Homo sapiens: one gene and its partner. The protein of the gene in region 1 purifies or fractionates together with the protein of each later gene. This does not show direct contact. Each region holds a gene or a part of one and is shown in the gene's direction. Other genes may lie near its edges.

Region 1 (3,651 bases):
TAAAGCATCCCTTTGTAACAGTGGGTCCCAAGAGATTGAGGTACACTGATTAACCTCTGGCAAATACTTTTTTCTCCTGAACCAAGTTTCAAGCCCTAGAGCTTCCTGTTGTTTTCCACCTCTAGAATTGTTCATCTCTTTCTGACCCTCCACATTGTCTGCCTTAGCATCTGCACTTACTCTGCATGAAAAATAGCTTATATCCTGTTTGAAACATCCTTCTTGCACTGATTTTTTTTTTCTTTAGGCCAAAAACCGAGAGCTCCTGAAGCAGGCAGCTGCTTTGTCCAAGAGCAAGAAGTCAGAGAAGTCAGGAGCTATAACCTCTCCATGACAGACCTCAAGGAGGCTCCCTAGCAACAGCAAATGGAGTTGTCCAGGGTTAGGGTTGGAGACCTGGCTGTTCTGTGGGAATTGCAAGCTTTCTTAAGAAATCTCTATTTTATTACAGTTATCCTTCTTTGTGCGATTGCAGTGGGCTGAATGGAAACACCTGGTTTGTGCTGTGTTAGACTGCATGCTTGAGTGTTTGGGATTTCAAGCTCGCTCTCTTTCTCTCACTATTAGGACTTTTCTTTTTCTTCTTCCTCTTCTCTCTATTTTGGTTCTATTCTTTTTTTTTCTTTTTTCTTTTTTTTTTTTTTTTTTTTTTTGTGGTGGTCACTGCTCAGTGTAATGTGCAGAATGATTTGTTTTTTGTTTTTTTTTTTTTTTTTGGTCCTTCATTGCATCCTGCCATACCCATGAGCAAACAGTTTGGCATTAATTATATATCACTGCCACCCTCTGAACTTTGAAAACTGCCATCTTCAGACTTGGTATAATGGAAGAGGCTTTCTCTCTCCAATAAACCTTTTGCTTCAGGGTATACTCTTCGGTTTTTTTCCAGATGTATTATGTATGAACTTTGTACTATGTATAGCCAGAGTTTTATTTATTTTTTAAAAAAGAAACTTTTTCTTGATAAAGGAATAATGGTGGTCTAGCTAGTTCTTGTAAAAGTGATGCCTCTTGAAAAAAAAACAGTCCTATTCACTAGCTTTTAGTAAAAGAATCAGATCTTTTCTTTCTTGTTACCTTGGAGTCTTAAAAACTGATTGCTAAGGTGAAACAATTCAATGCATAAGTATGGAGCTAAGTGCCTTTTGGAGGATTTCTTGGAAGAGCATTTATGGAGATACTTAAGGGAGGTAGCAAAGATTTGAACCGTCTGTCTTTTTAAGTAAGGGCAGAAAGCAAGGTTGTCCAGGTTGTACTGGACACTTCTCTCCCCACCCCTTTCCTGATTGTTTTATGTGATTGATTTTAAATTCTCACACTGCCACTTCTTTAAAAAATAAAATCCTTTATTTGCTTATATCAGTTGTCATACTGGGCTGCTGTCAGAGAATGTTTTTTTACATGAATGAACAGATTAAAAATGGAATAATATGGTCGGGTGCGGTGGCTCACGCCTGTAATACCAGCAATTTGGGAGGCCAAGGCGGGTGGATCATTTGAGGTTAGGAGTTTGAGACCATCCTGGCCAACATGGTAAAACCCCATCTGTACTAAAAAAATACAAAAATTAGCCGGGCCTGGTGGCATGCACCTGTAATCCCAGCTACCCAGGAGGCTGAGGCAGGAGAACTGCTCGAATCCCGGGAGGCAGAGGTTGCAATGAGCTGAAATCGCAACACTGCACTGCAGCCTGGGCAATGGAGTGAGACTCCGTCTCAAAAAAAAAAAAAAAAGGAATAATATTTGAACTACAGAGCATTTTTGGGGTCAGCATGAGCTGCTCTAGTAAGGACTCTTGAGTCTGGGAAAAGTGGTATCACTATACCTTCTCCCCACTCCTCACCCACCCGAGCCCATACACTCCCTGCTTTTCATGGATATGTATTGAAAACAGGTGCTTCTCAGAAGCACTTTGCCTCAACCAGAGTTATGTATGCCCTGCCTATCTTCCCTTCTTAACCCTGTAGGAATATGGATTTACTTTTCCAGGAAAGGGGATAGATTTACATTTCTAGGCATACTCTCAGGTCCTCTATGTGATGTTTGTGAAAGGAATTAGGGTGTGTCATGTGTGCCATGAAACAACAAAACCAACTACCCTAGAATCATTTATGCAGGGGGTACTAGAGTTAGAAATAATAATGAGGGCAGATAACATTTGTACCTCAGTCTACCAAAAAATTATAGTACTAAATTTAACTTCTAGGCGTTTCCTGGAAGCAGATGCTCTATAATTTGTGATAGCATTCTCATAAATGGAGTCCTACACATAATTGGACAGAGATGTGGAAATGGTGGTTTCCTTCTGATAAGGGATACAGTGGACCATGTCGCTTATATATCACCCTACTAGGGGATATAATTTTCCCTTCTAAGCAAGGGAAATGGCAGTGCTAAATAGTTTTGTAAAGTTTTTGAATGAGAAGCTTTTAGGTAAAGATAAACTGTCATAATATTTTTCAGATGCATTTGCATTGACTATGGGAGAAAAATTAGGGGGAAATGACAGTCATGGTGTTTTTTTTTAATTTTAAGGACTGAAATTCTGTTACATGATGTATGACAATATAAAAACATACTTAGTTTTATACTAAATCTTTTTTTAAGGTCTTGGCATTTAATATAAAGCAAATTCACACGTTTTCTAACTTTCCATAAGTTCCAAAAAGGGAAAGAAGAAACCTCAGTCTTGAAATTTTGATTTTTAAAAATCATGACACTGTTTTACCATGAAATTGAGTAGCTAACTTTTGGTAACACCTTTTGTTTCTTTGTATGTTTGTAATAATGGACATTTTAAAACACAGGAATGTTTTGGTTTGTACAGACTTTGACAAATGTGTGTTAATAAAAATTCATATTGACTCAAGTGTAATTGTTGGATTTTGTTTTTATTTCTTGCTGTTTACCAGTAGACATACCCCGTTATCCCCTTCAGCCCTTCAGCCTAGAAAAGTTTGTCTTGCTTATAGACTTAAAAAATTAAAAGCCTAACTGCTAATTGGGAATTTCCTGTCCATTAGAGAATAAACTCTTTCTTTCTCTCTTCTATGACTGTTTTGAGACAGAGTCTCACTCAGTCATCCAGGCTGGAGTACAGTGGCAAGTAGATCACTGCAGCCCCGACTTCCTGGGGATTCTCCCACCTCAGCCTCCCAAGTAGCTGGGACTACAGATGCACGCCACCATACCCAGCTAATTTTTGTATTTTTTGTGAAGATAGGGTTTTGCCATCCAGGCTGGTCTCCAACTCCTGGACTCAAGCCATCCACCCACCTCATCAGCCTCCCAAAGTGCTAGGATTACAGGCATGAGCTACCACACCCAGCCTCTTGGTGATTCTGTTTACCCAGTGTAAGTGCTCATGTTGTGATAGGCACTGTGCTAGGCAGCGCGGTTACAGCAGTGACAAAACCAAGTTATTGTACTTATGGGGCTTCCATTTAGTGGAATATTGGACACCACCACACCACCATTGTTCCTTGATTTAAAAAAAACTTTTTTTTTTTTTAATGGAGTCATGCTCTGTCACCCAGGCTGGAGTGCAGTGGCATGATCTCGGCTCACTGCAACCTCTGCCTTCTGGGATCAAGTGATTCTCCAGCCTCAGCCTCCCAAGTAGCTGGAACTACAGGTGGCGCACCAACACAT
Region 2 (3,823 bases), on another chromosome or scaffold:
AATTGGCTGGCTGACAGCGAATTTCTGTGACCTAACAGTTTAGATGTAATAATTGTGAAATAACTGCTCTATTAGAATCTTTAGAGAGAGATTTCAAGAATCATAGTAAACAGGTTATAAAGGCTATGTCCTAAGTAATGGTACTGAAAGAATTTTTCATTAGAACCATAGGCATAATTTAAGACAAAAGAGACGGTAATGGTAGAAAAGAGATAAAAGAATTGAAAATTGTGACTGATGTTAGCAGCCTTGAATGTACCAAATGACCAAGGGTATCAGAAGAGAGATTGGTAAAAATAATAGGTTCTAAGAAATTGATTATAAAATAGGATCCTAAGCAGAAAAAATGCATCCTGAGAATCTCTAGTACCCCATTATGTTCTTCACTTAGTAGTATGCCATTTCTCCTCTTTTCACTAATTCTTTTCCCCCTTTTTTCCCCTACAGACATTCCATACACCAAGCTTGGGTGATGAGGAATTTGAAATCCCACCTATCTCCTTGGATTCTGATCCCTCATTGGCTGTCTCAGATGTGGTTGGCCACTTTGATGACCTGGCAGACCCTTCCTCTTCACAGGATGGCAGTTTTTCAGCCCAGTATGGGGTCCAGACATTGGACATGCCTGTGGGCATGACCCATGGCTTGATGGAGCAGGGCGGGGGGCTCCTGAGTGGGGGCTTGACCATGGTAAGGGGCAAGACATTGTCAGGCTTACCCCAGCTAATGGGCATGGCATTAGGGGAGACAAAGTTACTCTATTCCCTGCTACACTTGGGTATTACTTGTTTCTCTTCTTGTGGCTAAAGGCTCACCAACAAAGACTTAATTTCACCTGAATAAATGAAATTTACCATGTAGGTAGATTTTACTTGAAAAATAATTTAAAATTGTACAATGTCTGGTTTGAAAATTATTTATTGTGGTTTTTGGGAAAAAGTGTTTTCTGCTTTTATTATGGCCTTCACATCCTAGGATTCAAATTTGAATGTGATAGCTGGCACACGGAGGGATTTATTCAAAAATGGCCTGAATCACGTTGAGCAGCCAGCAGAACAGAGCTTAAAAAAAAAAAAAAAGTCTGAGCCAAATATAGTATTGTGGATTAGTATGTAATATAAATCAGTATATTGGGCTTCCAGCACATCGAACCAGTAAGCACATCTTCATACTCTATATTTGATGCCAGACTTTAATATTGGCCTTATTTATGCTGATTGCCTATGTATTACAATTTTAAAAGCTATTATTTTGGGAGAGTACAGATAGGAAGTTTTTCTTTACTCAATGTGTTGTCACTACCTATATATTACTGAATAAGTTGATAGCTCTTTGACTTGTCCAACAGTGCGACTTCTCTGATTATTTTTAGTTCTTCTTTTGAGTGCAAAGAAGTAAATTCATTAATTTCTGTACTTTTTTAAAAAGCTTATTTTTTTATTTTCATTTTTGAAGACTATTTTATGTTTTGTATTTTAAATGATACAATTTGGGTAGGCAGGGAATTTATAAGCTGTCTTAAATTTAGGGGGGAAAAGTGGTTTTTTTTATATTTAGTGTTTAATTAGTCCTTCTGCTTCTCTCAGGACTTGGACCACTCTATAGGAACTCAGTATAGTGCCAACCCACCTGTTACAATTGATGTACCAATGACAGACATGACATCTGGCTTGATGGGGCATAGCCAGTTGACCACCATTGATCAGTCAGAACTGAGTTCCCAGCTGGGTTTGAGCCTAGGGGGTGGCACCATCCTGCCACCTGCCCAGTCACCTGAAGATCGTCTTTCAACCACCCCTTCACCTACTAGTTCACTTCACGAGGATGGTGTTGAGGATTTCCGGAGGGTGAGGCATTCCCTGTCAAAATCAATTCTGCTGTGATAGTCTGGGATAAAATTTTTGGGATACAGAGCCTAATCAGTATTCTTTACCCTTGCCGTGCCATCTCCTCTGCTGTTTTCTGGGTATGGGGTTCCACCTCCCAATTTCCAGTTTATAATTCTCCTCTCAATCCCTATTCTTATTGGTTCTCCATATTTGACTAATGTCTTTTAATGCTATTTCTATGATTTTTAGCATTTCTGAAAATTCCATACATGTGGCTAGTTTCCAGACATAATACTTGTCATTGTCCATTGTGTAATTCTCTCTTTTTTCTCTCCTACAGCAACTTCCCAGCCAGAAGACAGTCGTGGTGGAAGCAGGGAAAAAGCAGAAGGCCCCAAAGAAGAGAAAAAAGAAAGATCCTAATGAACCTCAGAAACCAGTTTCAGCATATGCTTTATTCTTTCGTGATACACAGGCTGCCATCAAGGGACAGAATCCTAATGCCACTTTTGGTGAGGTTTCAAAAATTGTGGCCTCCATGTGGGATAGTCTTGGAGAGGAGCAAAAACAGGTGAGCAAATATTGAGGAACTAGTAGTGAATGTTCCAGAAGTTTTTAAAGAGATAAAAATTGAGGTTTTCTTTTTTCTTACATGTCCTTATCTAATATCAGCTGTTTGTTAATGACACTTAAATATCATCCCTTGTCTTCGAAGTTGCAGCCATACACTCACTCCAGAAAACCTATTTAAATTTTTTTTTTTTGAGACAGAGTCTCGCTCTGTCACCCAGGCTGGAGTGCAGTGCCGTGATCTCAGCTCACTGCAAGCTCCGCCTCCTGGGTTCACGCCATTCTCCTGCTTCAGCCTCCCGAGTAGCTGGGACTGCAGGCGCTTCCACCACACTGGGCTAATTTTGTTTTTGTATTTTTAGTAGAGACGGCGTTTCACCATGTCAGCCAGGATGGTCTCGATCTCCTGACCTCGTGATCCACCCGCCTCGGCCTCCCAAAGTGCTGGGATTACAGGCATGAGCCACTGCGCCCGGCCTATTTAAAAATTATTAATAGGCTGAGTGTGGTGGCTCATGCTTTTAATCCCAGCACTTTGGGAGGCCAGGGCAGGAGGATTGCTTGAGCCCATGAGTTCGAGACCATCCTGGGCAACATAGGGAGACCCCCGTCTCACAGAAAATTAGCTGGGTGTGGTGGCATGTGCCTTTGGTCCCAGCTGTGGAGGCTGAGGCGGGAGGATTGCTTGAGTTCAGGATATAAAGGCTGCAGTGAGCCATGTTTGTGTCACTGCACTCCAGCCTGGGTGACAGAGCAAGACCCCGGCTCAAATAAATAAATAATAATTGTTATAGGCCGGGCGCGGTGGCTCACGCCTGTTAATCCCAGCACTTTGGGAAGCCGAGGCAGGCGGATTACGAAGTCAGGAGATCAACACCATCCTGGCTGACATTGAAACCCCGACTCTACTAAAAATACAAAAAAATTAGCCGGGTGTGGTGGCATGCCTCAAATCCCAGCTACTCAGGCGGCTGAGGCAGGAGAATTGCTTGAACCCGGGAGGCAGAGGTTGCGGTGAGCCGAGATCATGCCATTGCACTCCAGCCTGGGCAACAAGAGTGAAACTCCATCTCAAAAAATAATAATAATTGTTACAGAAGTACTGCATCTTTACAATAACTCTCAAAAATAGCTACCATTTCCCGCTTTTAAGGTGGAAACTGGAGCCCACTGCCCAGTTAAGGTCATATAACATTTAAGTGGTAAAGTTGAGACACAATCCAGGTTCTTTAACTCTTCCCATGTACTTTCCACTAATAATGTCTCCTATAATTCCTCATGTAGTGTCCTTCTGTTCAATTTTTAGATATTTAACTTTTCTAAGTCTCATTTTTTCCCCCATTTATAAAATTAGGCTATTACTTGATAAGCTGCATGCTGTGGCTAACTCTCAAATCCACTACCAAGTTTGGATTTAGAATTAC

The links.
Region 2: the proteins of FAM76A (region 1) and TOX4 purify together in Homo sapiens (affinity purification with mass spectrometry, with the first as the bait; one large-scale study listed by BioGRID). This does not show direct contact.

The regions. Positions count from the first base shown.
Region 1 is NC_000001.11:27,760,248-27,763,898, forward strand, and holds the end of FAM76A (protein FAM76A), read left to right. Parts: intron 1-247; coding exon 248-334; 3' UTR 335-2,869; downstream 2,870-3,651.
Region 2 is NC_000014.9:21,487,004-21,490,826, forward strand, and holds part of TOX4 (TOX high mobility group box family member 4), read left to right. Parts: intron 1-447; coding exon 448-690; intron 691-1,586; coding exon 1,587-1,847; intron 1,848-2,169; coding exon 2,170-2,400; intron 2,401-3,823. UniProt on the Homo sapiens protein: Transcription factor that modulates cell fate reprogramming from the somatic state to the pluripotent and neuronal fate. In liver, controls the expression of hormone-regulated gluconeogenic genes such as G6PC1 and PCK1.